Linked DNA regions of Homo sapiens: regions 2, 3 and 4 are each linked to region 1. The links come from fine-mapping of genetic effects on gene expression. A gene starts in region 1. Each other region holds a variant in brackets. All regions are shown on one strand. Distances are between the middles of the regions.

Region 1 (8,108 bases):
CAATGAGAACACATGGACACAGGGAGGGGAACATCACAGACTGGTGCCTGTTGGGGGATGGGAGGCAAGGGGAGGGAAAGCATTAGGACAAATACCTAATGCATATGGGGCTTAAAATCTAGATGACTGGTTGATGGATGCAGCAAACCACCATGGCACATGTATACCTATATAACAAACCCGAATGTTTCGCACATGTATCCCAGAACTTAAAGTATAATTAAAAAAAAAAATTGTTATTCTGCCTTTTTTGTATTAGAAATACAGTTTGGTAAATCCAGTTTACTTAAGACTTAAAACTGCTAGCTATGTATACAAAACAATAAACTATCAGAAAAGTGGCCAAAAATTAAGTAATTATTTCAACTTTTTATGACATCACTTTGGAAAATAACCTATTCCCTTTTAACTTGAGTAGTTAAAAAAGTTCTAACCTGTTTATGAAAAAAAAAAACAGAGTTAATGTGATATATATTTGATGCTACTTAGCAAAAAATTTTGGTAGTCCGACAAGTATAATTTATATATTGGAACAAACAAAACTCTGGAATACACAATCTATAACAAGCCAATTTACTACAGAGAAGGTATCCATAAATTATTTCATGCCAAAGGGTCTAATGTCAGATAAATTTTTGTTTTGTTTCGTTTTGAGACAGGGACTCATTGTCGCCCAGGCTGGAGTGCAGTAGGCAGATCTTCGCTCACTGTAACCTCCGCCTCCCAGATTCAAGCAAATCTCCTGCCTCAGCCTCCCAAGTAGCTGGGATCACAGGCATGTGCCACCACGCGCAGCTAATTTTGTATTTTTAGTAGAGGCGGGGTTTCACCGTGTTGTCCAGGCTGGTTTCGAACTCCTCACCTCAGGTGATCCACCCGCCTCGGCCTCCCAAAGTGTTAGGATTACAGGCATGAGCTACTGCACCCGGCCACACTTAGTATCCCTTGTTAAATGTTAAATTATCCCTTGTTAATTATTATCCCTTGTTAAATATTAAATTTTAAACAATTCAGTAAAAAGTTGAAATGAGTAAATATTTTGAAACAACTTTAAATGTTATGGTAGAACTCAAAAAAATCACTTAAAATGTTCTAAATGTTAAGTATATCAGTAAACTAGAAAAATGACATCTAGAAGCTAACACGCTATCTACAGAAGAATTTACTTCCACAAGTTACCCAAATAAAAGTGAAAAAAAAAAAAAGATCAAGTGATAAAGTTAATAGATGTTCATTTAAATTCAAATGAAGGAATTTTTCATTTAAAATACATCTGGCCTGATGCCTGTAATCCCAGTACTTTGGGAGGCCAAGGCGGGTGGATCACTTGAGGTCAGGAGTTCTAGACCAGCCTGACCAACATGGTGAAACCCCGTCTCTACCAAAAATATAAAAAATTAGCCAGGTACGGTGGTGCATGCCTGTAATCCCAGCTACTTGGGAGGCTGAGGCAGGAGAATCACTTGAACCCAGGAGGTGAAAGTTGCAGTGAGTGGAGATCGCGCCACTGCACTGAACTCCAGCCTGGGTGACAGAACAAGACTCCGTCTCAAAAAAAAAAAAAAAAAAAAAAAATCTGAGGACTTCAAAGGTGGAAAAAGTGCTAGAAACAAAATGAACTAACATTTTCCACAAGCCTAGTTTTGGGTCTTCAACACAGCAGTATTAGAAGATGGCTTTTACTTTGAGGTCCATGTCAAATGACAAAGTTATCATGCTTAACCAAGCGGACTGCTGAAAGGCATCACTTTTAAAACAAAGGTTTTACTTCAGTCACTTCTATTTAAAAGTTACAAATTACGACCAAGTATAGGAATCTTCCCTATGCACAATCTCAGCGCACATTTAGAACTAATGGTCATGACTGGGCGTGGTGGCTCACGCCTGTAATCCCAGCACTTTGGGAGGCCGAGGCGGGCGGATCACGAGGTAAGGAGATCGAGACCATCCTGGCTAACATTGTGAAACCCCGTCTCTACTAAAAATACAAAAAATTAGCCGGGCGCGGTGGCGGGCGCCTGTAGTCCCAGCTACTCGGGAGGCTGAGGCAGGAGAATGGTGTGAACCCAGGAGGCAGAGCTTGTAGTGAGCCGAGCTCCACTGCACTCCAGCCTGGGTGAGAGAGTGAGATTCCATCTGAAGAAAAAAAAAAAAAAAAAGAACTAATGGTCAACATGACCCACGGCAATTTTGAATACTTGGAAGAGCAGTCTAAGTACCCTCACACAAGTTAAAACCGTGTTAAGTCAGAGTCACAACTCAATGAGCCATGCACCTTTAATTTACACCTGGAAGTAAAATAGTTAAAGTGGAGAATTAGGTAGCTGATTAATCTATCCTGGGGCAAATCTTACATACTTTAATTAAAGCCTCTGAAAACACCTGATGTACAGGTTATAAAGAACAGATTCTAGACCAGTCATTCTAAGACTTATGCATGTAACACACACTTTCCAAAACTTTTTTTTTCGCTCTTGTTGCCCAGGCTGGAGTGCAATGGCGTGATCTCGGCTCACAGCAACCTCTGCCTCCCGGCTTCAAGCAATTCTCGTGCCTCAGCCTCCCAAGTAGCTGGGATCACAGGCATGTGCCACCACGCGCAGCTAATTTTGTATTTTTAGTAGAGGCGGGGTTTCACCGTGTTGTCCAGGCTGGTTTCGAACTCCTCACCTCAGGTGATCCACCCGCCTCGGCCTCCCAAAGTGCTGGGATTGAGACAGGGTCTTGCTCTCTCACCCAGGCTGGAGTGCAGTGGTGGGATCAAGGGTCACTGTAGCCTCAGCCTCCTGGGCTCAAGCGATGTTCCCACCTTAGCCTACCGAGTAGCTGGGACTACAAGTGCGCTATCACATGCAACTAATTTTTTAATTTTTTTGTGGAGACAGTGTTTCCCTTTGTTATCTAAGCTGGTCTCAAACTCCTGGGCTCAAGTGAGCCTTTCATATCAGTCTCTAAAAGTGCTGGCATTCCAGGTGTGAGGATATATTTCAAAATTACGCACAAACACGATTTTTTCACTCCCATCACTTTTCTCTTATTCCCTAGAGAACTTAATTTTTGCCAATAAGTCTTCTAAAATGTTACATTTCCTGTGGAATGCAAGAAACTAAATGCTTCATTAGCTAGTGGTGGCAATTACTATTTTTAATACTTCAAAAAAGCATTTCAATTTACTGTTCACTAGCACATTATGACATCATTCCCTTCCAGTGTTTGCTTGCTCATTAAATAATCCTGTTTCTATTTTGTTCTCTTGCCTTCAATACATAGATTGCAAATATTCCATTTCAGATGCTGCATTAATGATTCAGTGAGGCTGCTGAAAAACGCCTTTATATTTGAACGGTTTGGTAATACACTTTCTCTTATTGCGGTTGATATGGAGAGATTAATCTCTCACCAAAAGGCAAAATCTGGAGAAGATGAAATAGCAAAACTAAGGACCAATGGGAAGGGGGAGGCAAAGTCAATCGACAACCGTACCTAACAGGAGAGATTCCAAGGCTTCCATCAGATAAACAAAGGAAGCTGATTTTTCTACGGAGGCTGCATGTGCTGCAAGCTACCTGAAGCATTAGTATGCAAGCCCACTGAGCCTATTACCTTGAAAGCAGAGTCCAAGCACTGAATTTTTCTAGACTCCCATTATAGGTGGACACCCAGAAAGCCAGTGGAGACAATGATGGACGGGGAAGAGAGTGGGGCCGGTCTTCGATGCTTTCCTCCCACTCCACCAAAGCAGAAGTTAAAAACCTACAACCTACACGTATCAACCAGCTCCTCCGCTGCTCAACCATTTTTCAGGGGCAGAAGGAAGAGGTTGTGGGGGCTGGGCTTCATGTGGGGCGGGTGGGAGGAGCTGCAAAAGGAGTCAGGTTGAGAGGCGAAGGGTCGCAGGCGCTGTGGGGAGGACTGCACGACGCGAGCTGAGCACACAGAAGCAGGGCAGGGGGGCCCCGGAAGGGGCGAACGCCCGAACGGCTGGGGGCGGGGGCGGGCCCTTTCCTCACCTGGCAGCCCTTCTTGTGGTGAAATCCGACCACCACGATGTGCAGTACGGGCCCCCGGGGGACGCCATCCCCGCCTCTCCTGGCCTTCTCCATGGGCGGCCGCCGCGGGCCCGCACGACGACTTCGACCGCCAAGGGCAGCGGGTCTGACGACCCCACCGTGTGCGGAAAGCCGCGGACTTCGGGTGTCAGCGAGCACAGCACATGAGGGCCGCACAGGGAGATCGGTGGAGGCAAAGCAGCTCCCGCCGCCCCCAGGGCCACGGCCGCCCTTCCCTCATCCGCTTCCGCAGCTTCCGGGCTGTCACCTGACACGGCGGCCGCCGCCGGCGAGGCAGGGCTGGGCAAGGCCGGGAGGGCCCTGACGGGGCGGGGTCTGAGAGGCCGAGGTGGAGCCTGGGGGAGCGGGGTGGGTCTAGGAGAGGAGAGATCGACTCTGTGGGGCGGGGAGGAGCGGGGGGAGGAGCGGGGGGAGGGCGGGTCCGGGTGGGACTTGACGAGGAGCGGCGGGGTGGGGCTTACGTGACCCGGGCGGCTGGGCTTGCAGAGCCTGTGGTGTCCGCGGGACCTGGAGGTGCGGCGTGGCACACCTGCTTTTTCCTCCCTGGATTCAATCTCAAAGCACTTCCTTCTCTTTTGCCTTCTCTTTTTCCTCAAAGTTTTCCCACTTCCCTCTTCTCTTCTGTTTTCCTTGCTTTTTCACATCTTTTCGGTTCACTCTCCGAGTGTCCGATTCCTTCACCTCCTTGCCTTTGCCTCTGTGGCCCCCGTCCTTATTCTTAAATATGTAGTAACATGGAGCATACTGGTGAGGTTGCGTATCTGTGTATTCAGCCTTTAAATTACTTGCTTACTCGAGAATTCTTGTTTGTTTCTTTCTAGAGTTTTTTTTTCTTCGTTTAAATATTATGTGTAGGAATCTGAGACGCATTTAAAACCTGAAACAGAATATCCTTGACAACAAAGGAAGTTTACTTGGATACGTGTAAAATGATTATTCTAGTCCTGCGATTTTATAAGAATATTCTTTTCATTCCATCTCATTTTGGGTGTAGTACTCTGGTCAATACAAAATATATGGGCTCTGTTGTCACCAGGGTTTTTTAATTCCTTTACTGATTGTACTACAATTCTTTTTTAAGCAGTGAATCTCATGTCAATTTAAAGTGCATTATAGAAAAGATTTAACAAGTCTTATCTAGGACAGTTTTCAAATAACCTAAAGGATAGGTGTCTGCTTCAAATAGAATTCGAGATTACTACAGTAACTGTGATATTTTGCACTTCTGGTCTTGAAAAGTAAGGAGCTCTGTTCTAATCTAACCATAGCTGAGAAAAACAGTAGGCTTCCTAAATCAAATTTAGTTTCTGTGATTCAGTAGAACTGTTTTAATGCTAATACTGCAGACATTTTTCAAGATGCTGCTATACATTTCTTTTCTGTATTACAAAATTATTGGCATTGGCTAAGAAAACTGTGTAAAACTATATTGCTCCCTGTATGCAGAATATATTAACTGTTTTCTTAATATATTAACTGTTTTGAGCTGTCAGCTGTGTGATGTGTTAACTATTAATATTTTCTTGATATAACCTGTCTTGATATTTTCCACAATTGGCATGGCTAAAATTACTGTCTAATTGAACACCTTTTAAAGATGTATATAAGGGCCGGGTGTGGTGGCTCACGCCTGTAATCCCAGCACTTTGGGAGGCCAAGGCAGGCAGATCACCTGAGGTCAGGAGTTCTAGACCAGCCTGGCCAACATGGTAAAACCCCCTCTCTAGTACAAAATACAAAAATTAGACCTGTAATCCCAGCTACTCGGACGGCTGAGACAGGAGAATTGCTTGAATCCGGGAGGTGGAGGTTGCAGTGAGCCAAGATTGCACCATCGCACTTCAGCCTGGGGGACAAGAGCGAGATTTCCTCTAAAAAAAAAAAAGATATATATAAAAAGAGGGTCAGGCGTGGTGGCTCATGCTGGTAATCCCAGCACTTTGGGAGGCCGATGCGGGCAGATCACTTGAGGCCAAAAGTTGGAGACCAGCCTGGGCAACATGGTGAAACCCCATCTCTGCTAAAAATGCAAAAATTAGCCAGGCATGGTGGTGTGTGTAATCCCAGCTACTAGGGAGGCTGAGGCAAGAGAATCACCCTAACCCGGGAGGTGGAGGTTGCAGTGATCTGAGATGGTGTCACTGCACTGCTCTCCAGCCCAGATGACAGAATGAGACTCCATCTCAAAAAAATAAAGAAAGGGAGAGAGAGAGAAAGAAAAAGTTAGTTACTGGGAAAATTGAGACAGAAAGTGAACAAGGGAATTTCCAGGATTTTTTTCATCTCTAAATACACAGACTGGACCACTTAAGAATTTAGAATATAGGTGGGGCATGGCGGCTCACACCTGTAATCTCAGCACTTTGGGAGGCCAGGGTGGGTAGATCACTTGAGTCCAAGAGTTCGAGACCAACCTGAGCAATGTAATGAGACCTCATCTCTACAAAAAATAATAAAAAATAAATAGCCAGACTTGGTAGCACGCGCCTGTGGTACTGGCTTCTCAGGAGGCTGAGATGGGAGGATTGCTTGAGTCCGCGAGCACACCACTGTACTCCTGCCTGGGTAACAGAGTGAGGTCTTGTCTCTAAATTAATAAATAAAATATGATGGGGTGTTGCTATGTTGCCCAGGCTGGCCTCAAACTCTTGGGCTCAAGGGATCCTCCTGCCTCAGCCTCCTAAGTAGCTGGGGCTACAGTTGCCTGCCACCATGCACATCTTACATTATGTTTTAAATGAGTTGTATTAATGTAGAATAAATTCATTAACAAGATATTGTCCACAAGGACAAATGTCTATTGGGAAAATAATAAAATTTCTAATTTAACTCGAGGGAGAAAATTAGAAATGCCTTTCTGAACATATAATACATGGAAGAGCCTTTGGTAGTTACATGTATTTTATGATAAATTATAAATTCTATTTTACGTCTTCTACTTAAGACTTAAAGGGAGAAAAATCCTTGAGACATAGAGCTATGACATATTTTCAAGTTCATAACAACTCTCCATTTGGAATTGGCCTGTTCTTCCTTTTTGTGTCTTGCCTCAGGAGAGAAAATAATAAAAATACCACTCCCTGAAATCCCCATTAACTCTACTATGTAAGTGAACTATATATCGTTCCTTTTTTCAGATTCTAAAGAGATTTTCTTTATTCTTTATTAGTGGCATTCAAAATTGCTAATGTTTATTCTGTTTTTTTTTTGTTGTTGTTGTTTTGAGATGGAGTCTCACTCCGTCGCCAGGCTGGAGTGCAGTGGCACGATTGGCTCACTGCAACCTCTGCCTCCCAGGTTCAAGCGATTCTCCTGCCTCAGCCTCCTGAGTACCTGGGACTACAGGCGTGTGCCACCACACCTAGCTAATTTTTGTATTCTTAGTAGAGATGGGGTTTCACCATGTTGGCCAGGATGGTCTTCATGTCTTGACCTCGTGATCCGCCCACCTCGGCCCCCAAAGTGTTGGGATTATAGGCGTGAGCCACTGTGCCCAGCCTATTTTTCTAATTTTTAAAAACTCTATCAAATAACAACAATGTTTTGAATTCTCCCATACTGTCAGTATGGTATGGGGAAAATAAAATAGGAATAGAAAAGGAAAACCAGGAAAAGAGGTGGTTTTCAACCAAATGAGGATTGGACAAAAAGAAAAAAAGAGAAAGAGAAAGAAAGAAGCGTCACAAACAAATCTGGCATTACTTCGTATTTAAAATCTTATGAAGAGTAAGGAGAATGTTGATGGGTGTGAATGAAATAGTGAGAATCAATTTAAAGAATATTCATTAGGCGCCCTACAGTGTGCCTGAAAATGTAGTGTGCACAGTGTATAAAATAAGAAATTGCTTCCTTAAAGTGGCTTATGTCTGGTTATAAAAATAAGATGAATGCAAAACCAGCTAGCAATGCTAGCTTTATGTAGCTTCACTCTGAGCCAGACATCATGTATTAGAAAACAAGGATAAGTAATAACAGCTCATGTTTAAAAGGGCTATGTGCCAGGTCCTATGCTGACCACTTTTCATAGATTATCTCAAT
Region 2 (8,108 bases), 290 kb before region 1:
CAGTTTCCTTGCTCAGCTCTTTCATTTCCTGCTGACTAGAGCCCTATCCTGAATGCATGCCCAGCCCCCCAGCCCCGATCTCCTCCTTAACTCCTGTGGAAAAAAAAAGTCAATATATTAATTTAATAGAGCGAAATGAGTGTTCATTTACAAAAGCCAGCCGTGCAGTCTGCTAGTCAGAATGAAGAGTGTATTGAAACAAACACATACGAAGACTCTCCAGAAGAAAGGAAGGGGACAGCACGCCTCGCTGGGAGGCATTGCGTTTTTAGGAAACCCACACACGGAATCTGAGCTAAGCCTCTCTGGGAGTCCAAATATGTCATAATCTGCTCCCCAGCACTCACAAAATCATATTTTCTTTATGAACAGAATAAGTGTTTATTATAGAAAGTCAACTGAGAAAGGAATAAAGAAGAAAAACCTCTATCATCCTACAACTCAGATATATGCGCATGTGTGTGTGTGTTTATAGAATCGGAGTTATACATTTATTATATACCACAATGTATATTGCTTATATATTTACAAAATTGGACACAAACTCTTAGCTATCTTTTGTGAAGTCATTTTTAATATTTGGATAGTTGCATTGTTTTGTGTAGATCAATATTTTCCAAATTTGGCCGTGCTTCACAATTGTCTGGGGGTTGAAACATTTTTGCAAATTCCTAGGCTCTTTCCTACATGTTATTGCATCAGAATTTCTAGGTTTAGAAGTCTGCCTTCTTTGCCGGGTGCGGTGGCTCACACTTGAAATCCCAGCACTTTGGGAGGCTGAGGCAGGTGGATCATTTGAGGTCAGGAGTTTGGGACCAGCCTGGCCAACATGGTGAAACCCCGTCTCTACTAAAAATACAAAAAATTAGCCAGGCATGGTGGTGGGCAACTGTAATCCCAGCTACTGGGGAGGCTGAGGCAGAAGAATTGCTTGAACCTGGGAGGTGGAGGCTGCAGTGAGCCAAGGTCGCACCATCGCCCTCCAGCCTGGGCAACAAGAGTAAACTCTGTCTCAAAAAAAAAAAAAAAAAAAGAAAAGAAAAGAAAAAGAAGAAGTCTGCCTTCTTATAGCCCTCCCTGGTGATTCTGATGCAGGCCATCCTGCTGTGACCCATTTTGGGAACCACCGGTGTCCATGTGCCCTGGTAAGCAGTGAGAAGTGGCACCAGGCACAGGGCCACCTGCAGCACAGGGTGAGAGCTGTCACCTTGGAAGAGCCCAGGAAGGTACACCTGGCCAAATACCCTTCCAGTTCTCTCTTTGAGGGCAGAGCATTAGCGCAGCCTCCTGGAGCTTACAGGGAGGGATGACCCTGGGAAAGAAGAAAGGCTTATTGAAATGTATAGGGACCTGGGTCTTCCTATTTGCATAAAAGGAAGGAATGTGTGACCTCACTGTGGTCATTTCTCATAAGATATAGTCTACCTCCCACCTTGGTTCTTCACTTTGTACTTAATACCACCACAAATAGCCTTTTATTTTGGGTGACAGCTCTGCTTCATTCATCTTCTCCAACTCTTTCCTAAGGGCTGGGCCCTGCTGCCTCTTCTGGGTGTCTGTTTTGAAGTGACGACTGGCATTGTGGCCACTCCAGCTGAATGTGGACAGGATCTTTGAGCACCTGACTCAAAGCCTCCCTGGAGGCTTTAGAATTACTCTAGTGATTCTGCAGCCATTTCAGTTTTATGATTCTAATGGGCACCAACATGTTCTCCCATATCTGTCACCAATTCTACCCTGACGGCCGCCTCTCAGCCAACTGACCCCTCTGCCTCTGGTCTCCCTGGACTCCTTGAGTGGGTGGACCAGTCCTCATCAGGCATGTGCAGTCTGCTACCTGGGCACTCACTATTGCTCCGTCCAGCTTTTCTGAGGCTGTGCCTCTGACCCTGACCTCCATCCCCTTCCCAGACCCCCAAATAGTGCAGTGACACTTGTCCCAACATCCGCGGCCTGGCTGCCACACTCTCTCTAGAAGCCCTTGTCTTGTCTTCCACTGCCCTCTCCTCAAGACTGTCTGCAAGGAGGCAGGAGTGGGCCACCCTCTTTGTGTCAGGTTTTGGATAAGGGGCCCTAAGGGCCACCATTTTGATCTCAGCTTGGCTCTGTGCTCTTGCCACCCCCACACCCCCATGCATCCAAGTCCCACCACCTGTCAGAACATTACCTTCCTGGCCCCACCCCATGAGAATTGTGGCTCATCAGTGCTCAGTGGCTACACTCTCCATGCTGAGATCCAGATCCTTTTGGCTATCAGAATGATTGTCATCTTGGTGGCCCCATCTTGTGGTTCATGAACCAAATGTAGACCTTCTAACTTCCCAACTCCTATGGAGCAGTGGTTACGGGTCTCTACTGTCCAGGAGTGGGGGGCAGGCCCAGGTTGTATGTCTGTATGGGGGACTCAGGCTCTGCCATGTGACCTGCAGCCCTGACTCTCCCAGGCCTGATTCCCCAGTGACTCCTGCCACCCACTGACCCCCACTGCTGGAGTCATGCTGCAGAGCTCCTGGCATTCCAAGTCTTTTTCTGCTGTCAGAGCATTTCTCTCTAACCTTGCTCAAAGAAAGCTGGATTCAGATCATATTCAATGGTCTCAGACAGAGGCTGAGTAGGAAAGTGGTCCCATTGCGGTCATGACTCAAGAGATATCAGCCTAGGTCCTTCTCGGACCTCCTGATACCATTTCCATGATTAGAGAGTCTTTCTTTCTCTTTCTTTCTTTCTTTCTTTCTTTCTTTCTTTCTTTCTTTCTTTCTTTCTTTCTTTCTTTCTTTCTTTTCTTTTCTTTTCTTTTCTTTCTTTTTTTTTTTTGAGACAGAGTCTAGCTCTGTCTCCCGGGCTGGAGTGCAGTGGTGCCATCTTGGCTCACTGCAAGCTCCGCCTCCGGGGTTCACCCCATTCTCCTGCCTCAGTCTCCCAAGTAGCTGGGACTATAGGCGCCCGCCACCGCGCCCAGCTAATTTTTTTGTATTTTAGTAGAGATGGGGTTTCACCATGGTCTCGATCTCCTGACCTCGTGATCCACCCGCCTCGGCCTCCCAAAGTGCTGGGATTACAGGTGTGAGCCACCGCGCCCCGCCGAGTGTTTCTTTTGAAACAGAAGCCATTGACTCTTTTGAAGTCCCCACTTAAATACAAATATTAGGTTGTATTAAAAGTAATGGCAAAAAGTGCAATAGCTTTTGCACCAACCTCTAATATGTTGAGATGAATCATGCCTTAAGCCTTTCTCAGGGGGTGACATGGGCAGGACTGGGGTGGTGCGGTATGTACTAGTTGACAGGCAAAGGAAGCAATTTCTTGTTCTTTCTGATCTAGAATTGACAGTTTATGTGTCAAGAACTGTGCTAAGCACTTTCCTATGCTTCATTTCAGTTAATTTCATTGGCATATCACCACATACGGCTAATATCAGCATCTGCATGTTGCAGACCAGGAAAAGGAGATCCAGAAAGCACAAGCAAAATGCCTTAGTCACATAGCCAGTATGTGGGGCAAGGGTTTTGAACTTGGGCTTCCTGACATCCTGCCCCATGATGTGGGACAGCAGTGGATATTTCCCTGCCCCCTTCTTTCTCTCCTCTCTTCCAAGCTGCAGTACAACATTTGCAAATTCTGCCGTCTGCATCCTTCCCTGATCCGCTTGTGGTCTATGGCTGTCACCTCCTGTCCCACCTGTCTTTTGCCCCTTCATCTCTCCCTGCCTCACCATCCCTCCCAGTCCCTGGCAAAGTTTGCTGTAGCTTTCCACCCTTTTCCTTGAGGAGAGACAAATAGGCCTTGCAGTGTGTCCAAGGAGCCACAGTGTTTCTGAGGAGGGTGGTGGGGCTCAGGA[G/A]GGGCTACAGGAACAGTGGCCATTATAATAGGGCTTTCAGGACTGGGCTAAGCATGGTGCACACACAATGCCTTGACTTTTGTCTCTTAATCATTTCCTAGTCCATTTAGCTGGTTCCTGCCATTCAAATCCTGTAGTAAAGGGCCATTGTGTTTCCTTCCCAAATAGAATCGGGTATGTCATTCCAAATGCAGATAGGAGCCCCGCCTTTTAGTCAGCATGTACAGTGCCACTGTCCTCGCAGCTCCTCATTCTCTCCTAACAATAGCAGCCAGGTGCTGCCAAGAGCATGATTCTGCACAGCTGGAGGCCTCCAGGAGGCGCTGGGGCTTGACACCCTCTCAGGGAGCGCTTGATTCCTTGCCTCACACTTGGGGATCTCTAGGCCAATCTGGAGTGGAGGGTAGACTGATGATGGAGCCCCAGGGCCAGAAACCTTAGTGATCTGCCTGCATTTGCAGACTTCCATCTCATTCCTTGAATCAGACCCTTGAGGTAGGGCACTGGAAGCAGCTAAGCTCTCTGGAAGACGTTACCCCTTAGAACAGGGCTTCTTAACCTTCAATGTGTGGGAATCATCTGGGGATCTTGTTAAAATGCAAGTTTAGATTCAGCCTGAGAGTCTGTATTTTTAATAAGCTTCTGAGAAAAACCAATGTTGCTCCAAGGGCCCTGTTTTTACTAGCAAGAGCTCAGGAACTTGCTCAGTATGGTCACTTCGACTTTTAATTACTTATGTGTGGGACTAGGGCCTGAATTTGATTGTCAGGAAGAGTTCCAAGCATTCGTTCATTAACTCATTCATCCAATAAATATGCAGTGTCTACTATTGTTTTGGAGCGATAATGCCACAGGGACGAAGATAGAATATACCTGATTGTAACTGGTCAGTGGTGGAAGAAGGCAATTAAGCTGATAATTAGGTATAGTGCATCAGGTGAGATAAGTGAAGTGCTAGAAGTACTTCCCAGGAGCAGGATCCTTGAAAAATACATCTGTTGTTGAAAAAAGCAGAGGTAGTGGGAGCCAGGAGAACAGAGGAAAAGGGAGAGCCAATGGTCTGCTTAGCCTTGATGGAGCAGTAAGTCCAGAAAGGGGAAAGGGAACCAACATGGCCTGCTGGGGTCCTTTAACTTGGTACTCACATGGGACCTGGGTTTTCCTGTTAGTTTCTCATGCAGGGAGAGTTTGCCTGGCTCTGCTCTGTTTAAATTATTCTCTCCCTACTCCCTTCCTCCCTCATTCACCATTCCTAGGGTCCTCAGAGGATGTTACCCAGAAGCTCCATAAATCTAACCCTTTCAGCTTTCAGTGGTTTTAAGCAATAAGACAAGATGGTCTCACGGTTTAACTGAGGTTTCATTGAACATCCCATGAAATAATCCATTTCTGACTATTGTGGCCCTTGCGCAATTCCAGGGGTAGGACCTGGGGACAATGTAAATGACACCCCCACCCCCAAATTATCCCTCCTTTTTTTATTTTAACCGGTGCCCATTTTCATCAGGTCTCTACCCAGGAATCTTTGAATTCCTTGTAGCAGCCTGATGGTAGGGTGAATCTTAGGGTAATGTGAGCTCAAATATGACACCACTATGTTTTAAAATATTAAGTAATTTAATTCTTACAGGAAGATCCTGAAAGGCAGTATTATTGTTTCTACATTACATTTGAACAAAGGGAGGCACACACAGATAGATAAGCACTGCAACTTTCCTAGCATCACTGGGCTGGTGGTGGCCAGCATGCCAAGGCTCCCCTTAGCTGACTGGGTGAGGACCGTCCTCTGGTTCCAAGAGCACTGGGCTGGGGTGGGAAGCCAGATTCCAGTCTCAACTCTCTGCTTGTTGGGAAATTTACTCACTTCTCTGGGCCTCAGTCTTCTCCTCTTTCAAGAGAAGACTGTGTATCATTAGGGCTCTTGCCAGCTCTAACTCACCATGGCCCTTACAGGTATGAGTTGTTGTAACTTTAGTTATCAATGATCAGTTAGGGGCTGACAATAAGGCCCCTTTGCTGCACTCAGGGGAGGTTGAATGATGAGGAGCCTGCTTTGTTCTGCACTGCTTCCTGCCGTCTTGTCTTCCTGCCTCCTGCCTAGGCTGTTTCTGAAGCCTGTTCCTGGCTTGCCCCACCTAGTCCAGCTGTCTTGGCATTCATCTCTGTTATGGTTTGGATGTTTGTCCCCTCCAAATCTCATGTTGAAATGTAACCCCCAATGTTGGAAGGGCAGCCTGGTAGGAGGTGGCTCCCTCATGAATGGCTTAGCCCTATCCACTTGGTGAAGAGTGAGTTCTTGCTCTGGTAGTTCATGTGAGATCTGGTTGTTTAAAAGAGTGTGATACCTCTGTCTCTCTCTTGCTCCTGCTCTGACCATGTGACACATTGGCTCCCCCTTCACCTTTCACCATGGTGTAAGCTCCCTGAGGGCTCCCCAGAAGCGGGTGCCAGCACCATGCTTCATGTAAAGCCTGCAGAATCATGAGCCAATTAAACCTTTTTTTCTCTATAAATTAGCCAGCCTCAGGTACTTTTTTATAGCAATGCAAGAATGGCATAATACAAAATAAGTACTGAGGAGAGGGGCATTGCTATAAAGATACCTAAAAATGTGGATCCAGCATTGGAACTGGGTAATGGGCAGAGATTGGAAGAATTTCGAAGTTTCAGAAGAAGACAGGAAGATGAAGAAAAGTTTGCAACTTGTAGACTGGCTAAATGGTTGTGACCAAAATGCTGATAGAGATATTGAAGTCCAGGCTGATGAGGTCTCAGATGGAAATGAAGTTATTAGGAACTGGAGTAAAGTCACCCATGTTATGCTTTAGTAAAGAGCTTGGCTGCATTTTGTCCAGGCCCTAAGGCTCTGTGGAAGTTTCAACTTAAGAGTGATGACCTAGGGTATCTAGCAGTAGAAATTTCTAAGCAGCAAAGTGTTCCAGAAGTGGCCTAGTTGATTCGAACAGCCAATGCTTATATGTGCGAGCAAAGAAATGACCTGAAACTGGACCTTATATTTAAAAGGGAAGCAGAGCTTAAGAGTTTGGAAAATTTTCATGCTGGCTGATATGAGTGGGCTGTGTCCTCACCCAGATCTCATCTTGAATTCCCATGTGTTGTGAGACAGACCAAGTGTGAGATAATTCAGTCATGGGGGGAAGTCTTTCCTGTGCTGTTCTCATGAAAATGAATAAGTCTCACAAGACCTGATCATTTTATAAAGAGGAGTTCTCTCTCTCTTTGCCTGCTACCATCCATGTAAGACATAACTTGCTCCTCCTTGCCTTCCATCATGATTGTGAGGCCTCCCCAGCCATGTGGAACTGTAAGTCCCTTAAATCCTTTTTCCTGTATAGACCATGCAGTCTCGGGTATGTCTCTATCAGCAGCATGAAAATGGACAAATACACAGGCCATGTGCAGGAAATAAAATCATTTTCAGGAGAGAAATTCGAGCAGGCTGTGGAGCAACCACTTGCTAGGGAGATTAGCCTGACCTAAAGGGAGCCAAGTGTTAATATCTAAGACAATGGGAAAAAGGCCTTGAAGGCACTTTAGAAGTCTTGGGGCAGTCCCTTCCATCATAGGCCCAGAGGCCTAGGAGAAAAGTGGCTTAGGGGGCCAGGCCCAGGGCCTTGCTTCCCTGTGCTGCCACACTGCTCCCTGCATCCTGGCCACTCTGGCTTCTGCCATGACTCAAAGGGACCAAGGTTCAGCTTGGGCTGCAGCTCTAGAGGGTGCAAGCCATGCCTCGGCAGTTGTCACATGATGTTAAGTCTTCAGATGCTCAGAATGTAAGCATGAATGAGGCTTCCACCTAGATTTCAGAGGATTATGGAAGAGTTTGGGTGCCCAGGCAGAAGCCTGTTGCAGGGTGGAGCCCCAACAGAGAAACTCTACTAGGGCAATGGCAGGGGGAAATGTGGGATTGGAGCCTCTACACAGAGTCCCCACTGGGACACTGCCTAGTGGATCTATGGGAAGGGGGCCACTGCCTTCCAGACCCCAGAATGGTAGATTGGCAGCTTGCAAACTCTGCTTGGAAAAGCCACAAGCACTCCACTCCAACCCTTGAGAACAGCCATGTGTGCTGTACACTGCAAAGCCACAGGGGTGGATCTGCCCAAGGCCTTGGGAGCCCACCCCTCATACCAGGGTGTGGGACATGAAGTCAAAGGAGATTATTTTGGAGCTTTAAATGCAATGACTGTCCTGCTTGGTTTTAGACTTGTGTGGTGCCTATTACTCCTTTCTTTTGGTGAATTTCTTT
Region 3 (8,108 bases), 250 kb before region 1:
CTGAGCATTCTGGAATAGGAACGGCTTGACTGAGATAGATGCTTTTGAATGCCATATAAGCTGGTACAAAGATTAAACCAGAAATTTTTAATGAACTGCTACAGGCTTAGTGTGAGCTGGCATGAAATGTGAAGGCGAGCAGGCTCTGTCAGGGAAGATTGGGGAAGCATTTAGAGAAAGCTTTCCCTATGGTGCTGGCTAGGGGACAGGAAAAGCAATCATTGCTCAGACTCTGCTCACACCCAAGTTGTGAAATCTCTCCTAAGGAAAAGAAAGCCATGATCTGCAGGGAGAACGGTATCAAACCCATTGTCTGAGGACACTGGTGGGTATCCAGTGAAGCTGGTGAAAGAGAACAGGCAGGAAAAAAGAAAAAAAAAAAACCTAAATGTTAAAAAACAATCATATTCCTTGAGAAGGGAACACTTATGAAGGGTACAGCCCCCAAGTCCCAAATTCACAGTACCTGTCTAAGATTGAGGCTTAACTGGAACATCAGAAAACCTGCCACTCTTCGCCCATTACATTAACAAGCCTTTGGTAAAAATCACAGTGGAATGTGACTGAGTGAGTTTTGCAAGGCATTTTCTTTCTAGGGAGCAGCACAAAGGACAGCCCAAAACCAAGTTCAAAACAGGGTACCACTAGAGGAATTTGAAATCGCTAGTATCCATAGCAGCAACAAACTCCAGCTTTGGTAACTACAGCAATTACAAACTTCAAATCCCGCCCACCCTAACTAGATTAACACAAATACCTACAATAAAGACCTAACAGTAAGAAAGATGTTCTTATTTTCAAGCATAAAAATACTGACCTCTATGTCTACTGTCTTATACAACATGTCTAACTTTCAGCAAAAATTATGAGGCATACCTAAAGGTAAGAAAAAGCACAGTCCGAAGAGACAGAGCAGTCATCATCCAGACCCCAAGAAGATACAGATACTGGAACAACTGGACAGGAGATTTAAGTAACTATGATTAATATTTTAAACACCCAAATGGAAAAGACAGATGATACGCAAGATCAGATAGATAATTTTAGCAGAGAGTTGGACACTATAAGAATCAAAGGGAAATGCTGGAAATAAAAACAAGAAGTAAAAAATGCCTTAGATGGGCTCATCAGCAGACACAGCACAGCAGAAGAAATAATCAGTGAGTATGAAGATAGGTCAATAGGAATGCAAAGAGAAAAATAAGTGGAGGAAGGAAACAATAAGAGCATCTAAGAGCTGTGACACCATATCAAATATTCTAATACATGCGTAATTAGAATCCCAGTGGGAGAGGAAAGGATGAGGAAGAATAAACATTTGAAAAATAAATGACTGAGAATTTTCCAAAATTAGTGACAGATACCAAACCACAGATCCAAGAAACTCAGAGAACATCAAAAAGGATAAATATCAAACAAATGCATGAATGAATAGATAAACAAACCAAACATGCATATACAAACCTGGGGGTAAATGTAAACACATTAAAGAGTATGAGACAGAGACTATCTCACAAAGCCTAAAATACTTATCGTCTGGCTCTTTATAGGAAAAGCTTGCTGATCTCTTTTCTAACAGAATGAATAGACTAGGGATATAATGTGAGTTTCTTGGGCAGCACCAAGGGCTTCATTTGAGGTTGATGGTCTTGAACTGAGAACAAAACCAGCCAACAGAATTGTGTTTCTCCAGCTATAATCAGATTCCCAAGTATAAACACGGAGAAAATGGAGAGTTGGATTTAATCATGTTGGGTCAGCTTTCCCTTGGATGTAGAAAGCCAAAAAGAACATTGCTCATGGCCTTCCAGCAATGTCAGCAGCAACAACAACAAAAGCCAGACAGTCTTCAAATTGACAACTTTTCCTGAAGCAGTCAGGGAGCTGAGGTCACAGGACAATCAAATAACCCAAAATAAATTAAAAAGAAAAACCATGTGCAAGAACAGAAACAAGCATTTAATTATACGGGTCATGCCACTAGACACAATGGTAAAGAACTCAGCTCAAATTGTTCACCAGTCAGTCGGTAAATGCCTAGTATGGGTTAGCAAGGGAATCTGCAATTGCTTACAGACATTTTTACACAGAGCTCATAAGGTGCTGACAAAAGATTAGCAAGAGTGCTCAGAAAGCATCCTCCATGGTAAAGCCTGGGAGAACAGCAGCCACTTAGAGAAAGGCATGAAACCCACCCACCCCCCTCTTCCTTATCTCCCCTGTAAGTCTTAAACTCTCTTAGCTTAAACTGCTGCGGGAAAGCTGGGGGAAAACACTGTCCTTTTCACATTACTGGTACAAAAATAGGCCACAGATCCTGATTTAGTTCTTGAGCCTTACTTTTGCTAACCCCTTGACGCCTGTTTTATATCTTCTCTCTCCAGTTATCGCAAACCTCCTCTCCCCCTTTCATGCTCAGCGAATGACCTTGTTTTCTACTGTTTTCCCATGCCCATTATGTATTTCCTATCTGTATCCCAGGTGCCTACTTCCTGGAATATGGAGTTGATTCAATATCATATTTGTTGAATGAATGAAACTATGCAAATTTCCTTCTGCTACATACTCAGTAGTCAATGGATACAACCTAAGCACAACCAAAATTAGGTTTATCTGTATTCTCACCTGCATTTGGTATTGTCACTATTTTTTATGTTACTCATTCTTACACATATGTAGTGATATATCATTATGGTTTTAATTTACATTTCCCTATTGGCTAATGATGATGTACATCTTTTTGTGCTTATTTGCCGTCCATATGTGAAACGTGTCTTTATGTATTTTGCTCCATTTCTATTTGAATTGTTTGTTTTATGAATTTTGGATCTTAGGGTGTTCTTTATATATTATAAATGCTAATTACTTTTCATATATATGGCTTGCAAAAAATTTTCCCAGTCTGTAGCTTGCCTTTTCATTCTCTTAAACAGGGTCTTTTGCATAGAAAAATTTTAAATTTTTTATGAAGTCCAGTATGTCCATTTTTCTCCTATTGATTGTGCTTTTGGTGTCAAGTCTAAGGATTCTTTGCCTAGCCCTAGAGATAAAGATTTTCTCCTGTATTTTTTGTAAAGGTTAAGAGTTTTGCATTTTATATCTAACTGATCCATTTTGAATGAAATTTAGGTCAAGATTCTGTTTGTTTGTTTGTTTGTTTGCATATGGATGTTCATTACTCCAGCACCATTTGTTGAAAGTGGATCTTTCCTTTCTTTCCTTCACTGAATTGCTTTTGTGCCTCTGCCAAATATGTCAATTGGACATATTTTGTATGGGTCTATTTCTGGGTTCTCTGTTCTCTTCCACTGATTTATGCATCTACCCCTCTGCCAATACCATATAGGTTTTTGTTGTTGTTGTTGTTTTTTAGACTGAGTCTCACTCTGTTGCCCAGGTTGGAGTGCAGTGGCATGATCGCAGCACACTGCAGCCTCTGTCTCCTGGGTTCAAACAATTCTCTTGCCTCAGCCACCTGAGTAGCTGGGATTACAGGCACATGCCACCACGCCCAGCTACTTTTTTATTTTTAGTAGAAATTGGGTTTCACCATGTTGGCCAATGTGGTCTTGAACACCTGCCCTCAAGTGATCCGCCCACATCAGCCTCCCAAAG[T/C]GCTGGGATTACAGGTGTGAGCCACTGTGTCTGGCCAGTAGTCTTAATTAACGCATCTATGCAGTAAGTCTTAGAAGCAAGTAGCCTGATTCCTCCTACTTTATTCTTTTCCAAAATTGGTTTGGCTAGGTTCTTTTTTGCCTTTTCATATATATTTTACAACATGCTATATCTACAAAAATCTTGTTGGGACTTTGATAAGAATCGCATTAAATTTGTAAATCAATTTTGGAAGAACTGACATCTTTACTGAATCTTCCAGTTTATGAACATGGTATATCTCTTCATTTATTTAGATCACCTTTGATTCCTTTCATCAGCATTGTATAGTTTTGATCATCTAAGTCTTATATGTATTTTGCTAGATATACATTTAAGTTTTTCATGTCATAGAATTATAGTTTTAATTTTGGTGTCCATCATTAGCACATAAAATACATTTTTTATGTTTATCTTTTATCACGCAACTTTGCTGAACTCACTTGTTCTACGAATTTTGTTGTGGTTATCTTTTTGTTGTTGTTTTAGATTTGTTGGGATTTTTTACATAGTTCTGGCATGGGCAAATAGGGACAGTTTTATTTCTTACTTTTTAATCTGTATGCTTTTTATTTCCATTATTTGCCTTTTGCACTAAAACTTTTAGCACTGTGTTTAATAAGTGGTGAATGTGAACATACATGCCTTGTTGTCAGCCTTAGGAGAAAGCATCAGTATTTAATCATTAAGCACAATGTTAGCCACAAGTTCTTTGCACGTGATTTTTACACAGTTGAGAAAATCTCCCTTTTATTTCTTTTTTTTCCTGAGAGTTCTTACCATGAATGGGTATTGAATTCTTTCAAATTTTTTTTCTGTACCAATTTATATGATTATGTGATTTTTCTTATTTTGCCTGTTAACATGTAATATGATGTATTTGAATATTGAAACAGCCTTGCATCCCTGGAAGAAAACCTCATTTGGTCATGGTATATAATTAATATATTATTGAAATCTATTTTTGCAATTTTGTTTAGGAATTTTGTGTTTATATTCGCAAGGGATATTAGTCTGAAGTTTACTTTGTTTTGATACTGTTGGTACTTTGTTGGTTTTAGTATCAAGGTAATAATAGTTTGAGGTAAAGAATTGGGAAGTGTTTCCTCTTCTCTTTTCCAGAAGAGATTGTATAGAATTGATGTTAATGATTGCTTAAACCTCTAGCAGAAGTCTCTAGTGAAAATACCTGGGTCTAGAGATTTCTTTTTGAAGAATTTCTACATTTGAATTCAAGTTCTTAATAGTTATAGAAATATTTAAATGATCTATTTTATATTGATTTTATTTATGGCAATAGTTTGAGTTTTTCAAGGAATTGGTATATTCCATCTAAATTGATAAATTTAAGTGTGTAGAGTTGTTTACAGTATTCCCTTATTATCTTTTTGATGTATGCAGAGTCTGCAGTGATAGCCCCTGTTTCATTGACATGGATATGGATAATTCGTGTCTTCTCTTTTTTTGTCAGTCTTGCTAGAGGTTTGTCAACTTTATTGACCTTTTTGAAGAACCAGCTCCTTTTTTCCCTTGGCTTTTCATATAGTTAGATATTTGTTCCCTCCAAATCTCATGTTGAAAAGTGATCTCTAGTGTTGCAGCTGGGATCTAGTGGGAGGTGTTTGGGTCATGGGGGTGGAATCCTCATGAATGACGTGGTTCCCACCCCACAGTAATAAGGGAGTTCTCCCTCTGTAAGTTTATGTGAGATCTGATTGTTAAGAGAATCTGGGACCTCACTCGTCTCTCTCTTGCTCCCTCTGTCTTGACCTGCCCCCTCCCCACTGGAAACTTTCTCTCTCTTGTTTGCTCCCCCTTCGCCTTCCACCATGATTATAAGCTTCCTAAGGTCTTCACCAGAAGCAGATGCTGGTACCATGCATGCTTCTTGTACGGTCTGCAGAACCATGAGCAAAAATAAACCTCTTTTCTTTCTAAACTACCCAGTCCTCGGGTATTTCTTTATAGCAATGTAAAAAAGACTAATACAGCTTTCTCTATTATTTTTCTATTTTCAATTTCATTGATTTCTACTCTTTATTATTTCCTTGATTCTACTGGCTTTCAGTTTATTTTGCTCTTTTTTTCCTAGGTTCCTAACTGGACGCTTAGATTATTGATTTTTTTCCTCTTTTCTAACATATTCATTTTAGTGCCATACATTTCCCTCACAGCATTGCCTTCTCTCTTGCCTATACGATATATAAATATTTAAGTAATACAAATGTTTGCTATTGGGAAGACGGAGTGGATGTACTTTTCCTGATTACTCCCTTGAAGTACAACTGAAAACCCTTTGAGTTATATACAAATCAAACATAAGAAGACTGAAAAGTAGAGAGAAGACAGACTTGAGACCCAAAGAATAACATGGTTATGAGTTCCATGGGCTCTCTTTGTGCCTCATTTTCTCAGATTTGGAGTTAAAGAGGCTGGCAATCCAGAAATGCCAGTGGGCACTGCTATGGTTTGAATGTGTCCCCTCCAAAATTCAGGTGTTGAAACTTAATGGCCAATGTGATAGTATTAAGAGATGGGACCTGCAAGAGGTGAGTAGGCCATGAGGACTCCCCCCTCATGAGTGTGACTAAAGCTCTCTTACTCTCCTACTATCTGCCATGTGAGGACACGGTGTTCCTCTCCTTCAGAAGATGCAACATCAAGGCACCGTCTTGGAAGTGGAGAGCAGTCTTCACCAGACACTAAATCTGCTAGCGCCTTGATCTTGGACTTTCTTGGACTCCAGAATTCTTAGACTCCAGAATTGTAAGATATAAATTTCTATTTTTTTTCAGTTTTGCCAATTTTATTGAACCAATAAAATTCCTACTAATAATGATGAAATAATTTCTGCAAGTATAAATGTGATAGTTTAACAAAACCCATTGTTCTGTAACTATACATAGATTTTCAAAATGTCATAAGAAGTGCAGTTATGAATTGTTAACATGTTAATACACAGTTCCTTTATTCCAGCACTTTGGGAGGCCGAGGCAGGCAGATCACCTGAGGTCAGGAGTTCGAGACCAGCCTGGCCAACATGGTAAAACCCTGTCTCTACTAAAAATACAAAAATTAGCCAAGCATGGTGGTACACACCTGTAATCTCAGCCACTTGGGGGGCTGAGACAGGAGAATTGCTTGAACCCAGGAGACAGGTTGCAGTAAACCGAGATGGTGCCACTGCACTCTAGCCTGGGCAACAGAGTGAGACTCTGTCTCAAAAAAAAGAAAAAAAAAGCTTGAAAACCATTAGATTCCTTAGAGGACTAGTTGAACATGTTCATACCAGAGGACTGAAAGTGACTTTCACTTTTTTTGAATGATCTGAATTTTTTTTTTTTTTTTGAGACATAGTTTCGCTCTTGTTGCCCAGGCTGGAGTGCCATGGTGCGATTTCAGCTCACTGCAACCTACGCCTCCTGGGTTCAAGCAATTCTCCTGCCTCAGCCTCCCGAGTCGCTGGAAATTACAGGCATGCATCACTATGCCCGGCTAATTTTTGTAGAGACAGGGTTTCACCATGTTAGTCCGGCTGGTCTCAAACTCCCGAGCTGAGGTGATCCACCCGCCTCGGCCTCCCAAAGTGCTGGGATTACAGGCGTGAGCCACCACGCCCAGCTGCATCATCTAAATTTTTATAGGAGCGAATTCTTATTTCTTCTGCAATTAAAAAAAGAAAACTTCTAAGTAAAGATAATTAGTTGTACACATTCATTAGCTTCCGCTCAGTCCAAACATCCTACTAAAATGATAAAAATGTAATTTTTAAAGGGAATACGCCTATAAAAAATTCAAGAAGATGAAATAAAAAGCAGTACCTTTAGACTCTGGAAAGAAAATTAATGAGTAATAATTTTCACTGCAGAACTAGGAAAGCAGAGAAGCAAACTGCTTTACAGCAGGCACAAGAATTGGCAAGCACAAGATATCTCTGGAAGCAGGGGTGAAGGCAGGCCTAAAAGAGAAAGATTCATCGCCAGTCTGTGTGGAAGCCGTGAGATCTCCCAGTTGTCCTCCCTGACTTGCAGCAGCTAAGCAACCCCAACCCTGGCACTCTACTACAAATTTGTTATTAGGAGAGGGAAAAGTTTCTAGACTTGCAGACAACAGGAATAGCTGAAGGCAGAGGTCCTGTATTGATACTAAATATGGAGATTAAATGAAAGTATCACTTTGAGTATTAAGACTCTCAATCTTATTCTTACTCTGCTCCTAGACCACTAGCAGAAACGATTGTGTCTTCCAGGCAAGAAAAGCCATTTCTGGAAAATATGACCAGCCCAAGAGAAAAGACAGTAATATTCCTAAGAAAATGGCCCAGACAGAGGACATTACATGCACAGAGAGCTTCCAATTTGCTTTTTAGTGCCCCCCACTTTAAAAGTATCAGGAGTAGGCCAAAGATCACCAAACATTTAAAGAAAATATCTAACAAAAGAATGAAGCCAAAC
Region 4 (8,108 bases), 180 kb before region 1:
GGAAGTTCTGGCCAGGGCAATTAGGCAGGAGAAGGAAATAAAGGGTATTCAATTAGGAAAAGAGGAAATCAAATTGTCCCTGTTTGCAGATGACATGATTGTATATCTAGAAAACCCCATTGTCTCAGCCCAAAACCTCCTTAAGCTGATAAGCAACTTCAGCAAAGTCTCAGGATACAAAATCAATGTACAAAAATCACAAGCATTCTTATACACCAATAACAGACAAACAGAGAGCCAAATCATGAGTGAACTCCCATTCACAATTGCTTCAAAGAGAATAAAATACCTAGGAATCCAACTTACAAGGGATGTGAAGGACCTCTTCAAGCAGAACTACAAACCACGGCTCAAGGAAATAAAAGAGGATACAAACAAATGGAAGAACATTCCATGCTCATGGGTAGAAAGAATCTATATCGTGAAAATGGCCATACTGCCCAAGGTAATTTATAGATTCAGTGCCATCCCCATCAAGCTACCAATGACTTTCTTCACAGAATTGGAAAAAACTACTTTAAAGTTCATATGGAACCAAAAAAGAGCCCGCATCGCCAAGTCAATCCTAAGCCAAAAGAACAAAGCTGGAGGCATCACGCTACCTGACTTCAAACTATACTATAAGGATACAGTAACCAAAACAGCATGGTACTGGTACCAAAACAGAGATATAGATCAATGGAACAGAACAGAGCCCTCAGAAATAATGCTGCATATCTACAACTATCTGATCTTTGACAAACCTGAGAAAAACAAGCAATGGGGAAAGGATTCCCTATTTAATAAATGGTGCTGGGAAAACTGGCTAGCCTTATGTAGAAAGCTGAAACTGAATCCCTTCCTTACACCTTACACAAAAATTAATTCAAGATGGATTAAAGACTTAAACGTTAGACCCAAAACCATAAAAACCCTAGAAGAAAACCTAGGCATTACCATTCAGGACATAGGCATGGGCAAGGACTTCAGGTCTAAAACACCAAAAGCAATGGCAACAAAAGCCAAAAGTGACAAATGGGATCTAATTAAACTAAAGAGCTTCTGCACAGCAAAAGAAACTACCATCAGAATGAACAGGCAACCTACAAAATGGGAGAAAATTTTCGCAACCTACTCATCTGACAAAGGGCTAATATCCAGAACCTACAATGAACTCAAACAAATTTACAAGAAAAAAACAAACAACCCCATCAAAAAGTGGGCAAAGGATATTAACAGACACTTCTCAAAAGAAGACATTTATGCAGCCAAAAGACACATGAAAAAATGCTCATCATCACTGGCCATCAGACAAATGCAAATCAAAACCACAATGAGATACCATCTCACACCAGTTAGAATGGCAATCATTAAAAAGTCAGGAAACAACAGGTGCTGGAGAGGATGTGGAGAAATAGGAACACTTTTACACTGTTGGTGGGACTGTCAACTAGTTCAACCATTGTGGAAGTCAGTGTGGCGATTCCTCAGGGATCTAGAACTGGAAATACCATTTGACCCAGCCATCCCATTACTGGGTATATACCCAAAGGACTATAAATCATGCTGCTATAAAGACACATGCACACGTATGTTTATTGCGGTACTATTCACAATAGCGAAGACTTGGAACCAACCCAAATGTCCAACAATGATAGACTGGATTAAGAAAATGTGGCACATATACACCATGGAATACTATGCAGCCATAAAAAATGATGAGTTCGTGTCCTTTGTAGGGACATGGATGAAATTGGAAATCATCCTTCTCAGTAAACTATCGCAAGAACAAAAAACCAAACACCGCATATTCTCACTCATAGGTGGGAACTGAACAATGAGATCACATGGACACAGGTAGGGGAATATCACACTCTGGGGACTGTTGTGGGGTGGGGGGAGGGGGGAGGGATAGCATCGGGAGATATACCTAATGCTAGATGACGAGTTAGTGGGTGCAGCACACCAGCATGGCAGATGTATACTTATGTAACTAACCTGCACAATTTGCACATGTACCCTAAAACTGAAAGTATATAAAAAAAAGAAAAAAATGCTGCCAGTCTCTTTGCTAAAGCATAGTAAGAGTGACCTTTACTCCAGTTCCCAATAGGTTACTCATCTCCATCTGAGACCATCTCAGCCTGGACTTCATTATTTATATCACTATCAGCATTTTGGTCGAAACCATTCAACAAGTCTCTAGGAAGTTCCAAACTTTCATTCATCCTCTTGTATTCGTGTGAGCCTTCCAAACTGTTCCACCCTCTGCCTGTTACCCATTTCCAAAGTTGCTTCCACATTCTTATAGCAGTGCCCCACTACCTCGGTACCAATTCTCTGTATTAGTCTGTTTTCACACTGCTATGAAGAATACCACCAGAGACTGAGTATTTATAAAGAAAGGAGGTTTAATTGACTCATAGTTCTGCATGGCTGGGGAGGCCTCAGGAAACTTACAATCATGGTGGAAGGTGAAGGGGAAGCAAGGCACTTCTTACATGGGGCAGGCAAGAGAGAGAGAGAGAGAGAGAGAGCACCAGAAAGTACAACACTTTAAAACCATCAGCTCTCGTGAGAACTCACTCACTATCATGAGAATAGCATGGGGGAAACCGCCCCCATGATCCAATCACCTCCCACCAGGTTCTTCCCTTGACACCTGAGGATTACAATTCAAGATGAGATTTCAGTGGGGACACAAAGCCAAACCATATCAGAGTCTTCCTCTTAAAATTCATGGAAAGGTCATCTCTGTCTAATGTCTCTCTGATGCTTCTTTTGACAGTACCACTAAAGAAATTTCCATCCCAGAGAGTACATGTGGAGGACATCAGATTCAAAGACAAAAAATTATTTGTCATTGGTTTCAACCACAAAACCATTTACTGTGGTTTTAATATTGTGAATATCTGTTCTGATCCCAAGAAATCATCAGTCAAGTAGAGAAAAATAGAACAATCTATTTCTAGAGTGTCTAAAGCATTCATTCTATCATTTTAGTAGATGATATATATGAACATCAACATCCAGTCATTTCCTGAATAATACAAGACATTATAATTTACCTTAGAGTGAAGCTGTTCTCACAGAATTTACATTGTGCAATTTTGCTTTTTCACATGAATAAATTAGGGGCTCAGGAAGTAGAAGGACAAATAAGGCAGAGAACAAGCAGGAAAAATAATTGAGGTAGGACCAGCAATCCATGGAGTATCCCAAGTTCAGGTGAAAGTGTAGAATATATCTGAATGTGAGAGTAGGGCCAAAGATAGACTCATTTTGGCCATGGACTCACTGACGTGTGATCAAAGAAAAATAAGTCTGAAGAGCATTGGAAACCCGGGCAATGGTCATGGAATAAATGGATAGTCAAATACTACTAAAAATAATAATAATAGCCATCATTTATGTGATTACTGAAAAGAGTTTAAGATTTTCGTGCAGTTTGGTTCTTCACAGGGCAACCCCCAGAATTGGGGTTGAGCCCAGGAGGCCATGTGGGTTCTTGGCTTTGGGCAGGAAGGAATTCAAGAATGCTCCAACAGAGTGAAGTGAAAAGAAGTTTACCTTAAGAAAGTAAAGGGATGAAAGGGTGGCTACTCCACAGGCAGAGCAGCTGTGAGGGCTGCTGGTTGATTGTTTTTAAGGTTATTTCTTCATCATATGCTAAACAAGAGGTGGATTATTCATGAGTTTTCTGGGAACAGGGAGGGGAATTCCTGGAACTGAGGGTGTCTCCCGCTTTCAAACCATATAGGGTAACTTCCAGAGGTTGCTATGGCATTTGTAAACTGTCATGCTGCTGGTGGGAGTTTCCTTTAGTATGCTAATATATTATAATGAGCAATAAGGATGACCAGAGGTCACTTTAGTTGTCATCTTGGTTTTGGCGGGTTTTGGCCGGCTTCTTTACCACATCCTGTATTATCAGCAGGGTCTTTGTGACCTGTAACTTGTGAAACCAGTCGTGCCAGATTCCTGGGCTCCATTTTAACCTTAGGATATAGTCCACTAGGGATATACAGTAAAATTACAGTATCTTAATGTTATTTGAAATCTTCTCCCAAGTTGATAAATAGTTCATTCCTTTCTTTCATTTTTATTTTGATATTTAGGGATTTTTAAATTTTTGATATGTTTCCAAAAGCAAACCTACAAAAGAAGGAAGGTATAGTGTCCTAGGGCTGTCATAAAGAAGTACAACAAGCTAGGTGGCTTAAAACAGCAGAAATGTATTCTCTCACAGTTGCAGAGACTTGCAGTGGGACGTTAAGGTGTTGATGGGCATCTTGTCTCTGAAGGCTGGAGGGGAGAGTCCTTCCTTGCCTCCTCTCAGCCTCTGATGGCTGCTGGCCATCCTTGGAATTCCTTGGCATGCTGATGCCTCACCGCAGTCTCTGATCCATCTTCACACAGCCTTTTCCCCTGTGTGCCTGTAGCTTTGAGGCCAAATATTCCTCTTTATTTAGATTTACCAGTTGTGTTGGGTTTAGAGTCCACCTTAATCCAATATGACCTCATCTTGATCACGTCTGCAAGAATCCTATTTCCAAATAAGATCAATCCACAGGGTCTGGTGGACATGAAATTTTAGGGGACAGTATCCAAATCAGTTCACAAGGAAACATAATTTTAAAAATAGTGATATCAGAGCTAATACATCAGAGTATCAAGACCATTTTTTTCTTTTTCAGTAAATTTCTGGGTAGGCATCTCACTTTTGTATTTGTGAGTCTTAAACCCGGTTTAAACTTTGGCAGCTACTGGTACTGGCTACCAGGGCAGCTCCAGACAAAACTGAAGATGCAAATACAAGACGTAGATTTATCTTGTGTTTCTCTGTCTTCCCTCATACTGCC[G/A]CTTAGACTCTCCGTTAGGCTTCTAGTGTTTTCTTGTTTTGTCTCACGTAATTTTCCACCCTTGCTATCTTTCCAAAGCAGTGTGCCAAGCTAAAAAACTCTTTTCTTCAAAATAGGACCACTCCCCACCCTCATCCCCAGTCACGCAGGGTTCTTACCTTATGCTGACTTGATAGGAGGGAAAATAATCTGCAAAATTAGGTGGCACCCGAGTGAAATTCATATGTAATAATACATCAGTGAGTAGCCTTCTCAACACATTTGCATTTTTCCATGTAAATCCGGAGGAAAAATGATTGATAGTGTCATTTTGGGGATTAACATAAGCAGTTAGAGGAGCATTTTTGGCTTAAGATTTCTTGGTTAATGATAAATTTTAGTTCCGTAAGAAACCACTCACTCTATTCATAAGATAGCATTTTCTAACAGTTATATTAGTGTGGGTAATAGGATTTTCTAAGTTGAAGTATGCTGAGTCATATTATTTTTTAAATGCTGAAACTATTGTTGAAGCTATTTTGCATTCAGTTATTTCAATTAAGACAAGTTTATGTGAAAATACGTAGTTTTTTCGCAACTTTAGGATTTATCAATGGTCAGAAACCTGTGAAATTCATTGTCTTAATAGCTATTAGTTGCTTAATTGCTTTGTTTTTCAAAAACAGTATATTTACTTCGAAGAGGCATCATAATTATGTACCTTTTGTTATTTTAACTGAGCATATCCTTATTTCAGGGACTGTATTATTCCTATTTCAAGACTATTGTGGAAACACCCTCATTTTTGAATGGAGTATGGATGATTATGAATGATAAACTGACTGAATACCCCCTTGTTATTAATACATTAAAAAGATTCAATCTTTACCCTGAGGTAAGGTACTTTTTCCAATTGTGATTTTTCACTTTTGTAAAACTTTTTTGAATTAAATGCTGATTCTAACTCTAAGGTATAATTCAATATATTAAATTGTATTTAATTTTTTAAAAGAAAATATGTATCTTGGGGAGGAATATGTAAAAAACATCATTACTGATTTTGAGGAGGGGGCTTTAATTCTGTGGGGAACTGTTGTTGTGACTGCATTGTTTAAAAAATACAAAAACTAGATTTGGTGTGCTTACAAGGATTATACTAAGGGAGCTCTGTTACTTTTATATGTCATTTGTTAAATGTTTTCTTCCTTATCCTCATTTAATTAAGTGCACTTTCTTGAGTGGGAGTGGAGGGAAGGTGAGCCCGATCCAGCAAGTGGAGATGGCATTTGGCCTTTCCTTTATCCTCCTTGCAAAACTATAAATTTGTTGATGTGGAACTCTAGTTCAGTAGAATATATACTTTAATGATTTTGTCAGAAGACCTTCCGGATAGATATTCAACTATCCACCAGGAGTGTTTTCGAAACTATTTATTTACCTGCATCTTTGTTGATTGGATAGACAAAGAAATTGAAGTCACATGATGTATTTCATTCATTGATTATAGATATATTTCAGTGTTCTTTATATATGTATGTATAACACACATACATATACATATAATGCATTTTTACTTTTAAAATTAATTACCAATTCATGCTTTTCATCTATATTTCTATTAAAATTTTATATACTGGATATTAATATAATGCTATATAATAAAACATTTTTCCCAGTTGTTTGCCCTTTAGCTTTGTGTATGATGTCTGTGTATTTTTTTATACAGAAATATATCTATGAATCTTTTTGTCTTTTATACATACATGTAAAAAACTTCATTTTTATAATTATAACTTTTTTTAAATTTACATTTTTAATTTATCTGGAATTGGTTTTGATGCATAGTGTGGGGTAGGAATCTAACCTTGAATTTTTCTTTGAAAATAGTATTGTGTGTAACCTAACACTGATGAGGTGTCCATCCTCTCTCCACTGATTTGAAGTAAGCTTTCTTCTTTATGTGCAAAATTGTTATACATACGTGCTTTCATGTGTTTCTGGATTTTGTGCTCAGTATTTCTTAGGTTGAGGTCATGGGAAGTGGACTTTGAGATGGAGATTTGCATGCAGGAAGTAGTTGAGGGAGTGTCCTTAGGGTCAACACTTGAAGAGGGATGAATGAAGCAGAATAGGCAGGAGGAAGAGGAGAGCTTTGATGCAGTCACTGTGAAGGCCTCATCCAGTCCCTGGGCAGCTCTGGATCTGGGATGGCCTTGCAGAGTTGTCCTACCTTGACATAAGGGCCCCTGGTATCTTTCCCTATTGACTTGTCCGTCATTGGATGCAGATTGCCCTTGGGTAGGGGGTGTCACTTTGAGTGAATTTAATTTCTTCCCAGGGAGGGACACAGCTTCGAGCTCTCAGGCACCAGTCTTCCAACTAGCTGGAGGAATGATTGCCTCAGCCTGGAAGAGGGCATCTGGGGTGGCTTATCACCACCTGTACTATGGCTACATTGATCTGTCTAGCCATTCTTGTGCCAGTATCACACTATTTTAATTATTAAAGGTGATAAGACTTAATATCTGTTAAAACATTCCCTTTAGTTTTCTTGTTAGTTTTCTAGATACATTTTAGGCACTTGGAATTTTGATTAGAATTATTTTATGTTTATCAATTAATTTGAGGGAGAATTCAAATCTTAAATAATTTGGTCTATTCCAGTAGACCCAGTATCTTTTACTTGAGCAAATCCTCTTTTGTATCTCTTAGTAGAGTTGTATAGTTTTTGAAAAACATAAACTTAGCACTTTTTTTTGGCCCATATTTTGTCCTTACCCATGGATGAACAATTGAAAACTGACCAGTGAAGAATCTGCCTAGGAGATTCTGAGCCTCGTTTTACTAGATTTAAAGGGAGCCAAGTGGATGGTACAGAAAGGGAAAATATGGCAATTGTCACAATATCTCAAAAGTATTCTAGTAATGAAAATTGTTTGGTATATTTTCTTAAGATACCACTATATTTTTTAAAAATAGGTAATTTTGGCCAGCTGGTACTGGATTTATACCAAAATAATGGACTTCATTGCAATTCAAACCAAGATATGTCGGACGGTTACCAGAGGAGAAGGACTCAGTCCTACTGAAAGCTGTGAAGGTAAGTTTCGTTCTGTAATATTGTCCAGTTATCTGTTGTAACGTAATAAACTTATCCAGCATAATAAACTTAACACTGTAAACTTAGTGGTGTAAGCAACACCCATTTTATTATGCATATGGATTCTGCAAGTCCAGAATTTGGGCAGGCTTTAGCGGGGCTGGTTTATCTCCATGATTTCAGGGACC

Direction of the effects. Positions count from the first base shown, and alleles are read on the strand shown. Sizes are in standard deviations (SD) of each study's normalised expression. Not every link is listed here.
With allele T in place of C in region 3, the expression in thyroid of the gene that starts at base 4,324 in region 1 is lower (small effect, 0.25 SD a copy in GTEx).

What was found. PIP is the estimated chance that this variant, and not a neighbour inherited with it, causes the effect.
Region 2: its variant is the best candidate, but not a certain one, in a credible set for the expression of AVL9 in whole blood (INTERVAL, PIP 0.66).
Region 3: its variant is the best candidate, but not a certain one, in a credible set for the expression of AVL9 in thyroid (GTEx, PIP 0.82).
Region 4: its variant is the best candidate, but not a certain one, in a credible set for the expression of AVL9 in blood mononuclear cells (TOPMed, PIP 0.53).

What each region holds. Positions count from the first base shown.
Region 1 is chr7:32,491,705-32,499,812 of GRCh38, reverse strand. AVL9 (AVL9 cell migration associated) reads right to left here and starts at 4,324. Exons shown (of 16, transcript NM_015060.3): 1 at 4,011-4,324. The coding sequence starts at 4,103. It also overlaps a transcript of LSM5 not described here. RefSeq lists enhancers at 2,930-3,728, 3,729-4,527, 4,601-4,810 and a silencer at 3,861-4,510.
Region 2 is chr7:32,781,538-32,789,645 of GRCh38, reverse strand. No RefSeq gene overlaps it. Among named protein-coding and RNA genes, the nearest start is that of LINC00997, 27 kb to the right of the region's middle. RefSeq lists an enhancer at 1,096-1,597. The variant G/A (reference allele first, on the strand shown) is at 3,839.
Region 3 is chr7:32,741,782-32,749,889 of GRCh38, reverse strand. No RefSeq gene overlaps it. Among named protein-coding and RNA genes, the nearest start is that of LINC00997, 12 kb to the left of the region's middle. The variant T/C (reference allele first, on the strand shown) is at 3,616.
Region 4 is chr7:32,676,600-32,684,707 of GRCh38, reverse strand. It overlaps the pseudogene DPY19L1P1. Among named protein-coding and RNA genes, the nearest start is that of MIR550A2, 52 kb to the left of the region's middle. RefSeq lists an enhancer at 3,352-4,110 and a silencer at 6,804-7,004. The variant G/A (reference allele first, on the strand shown) is at 4,842.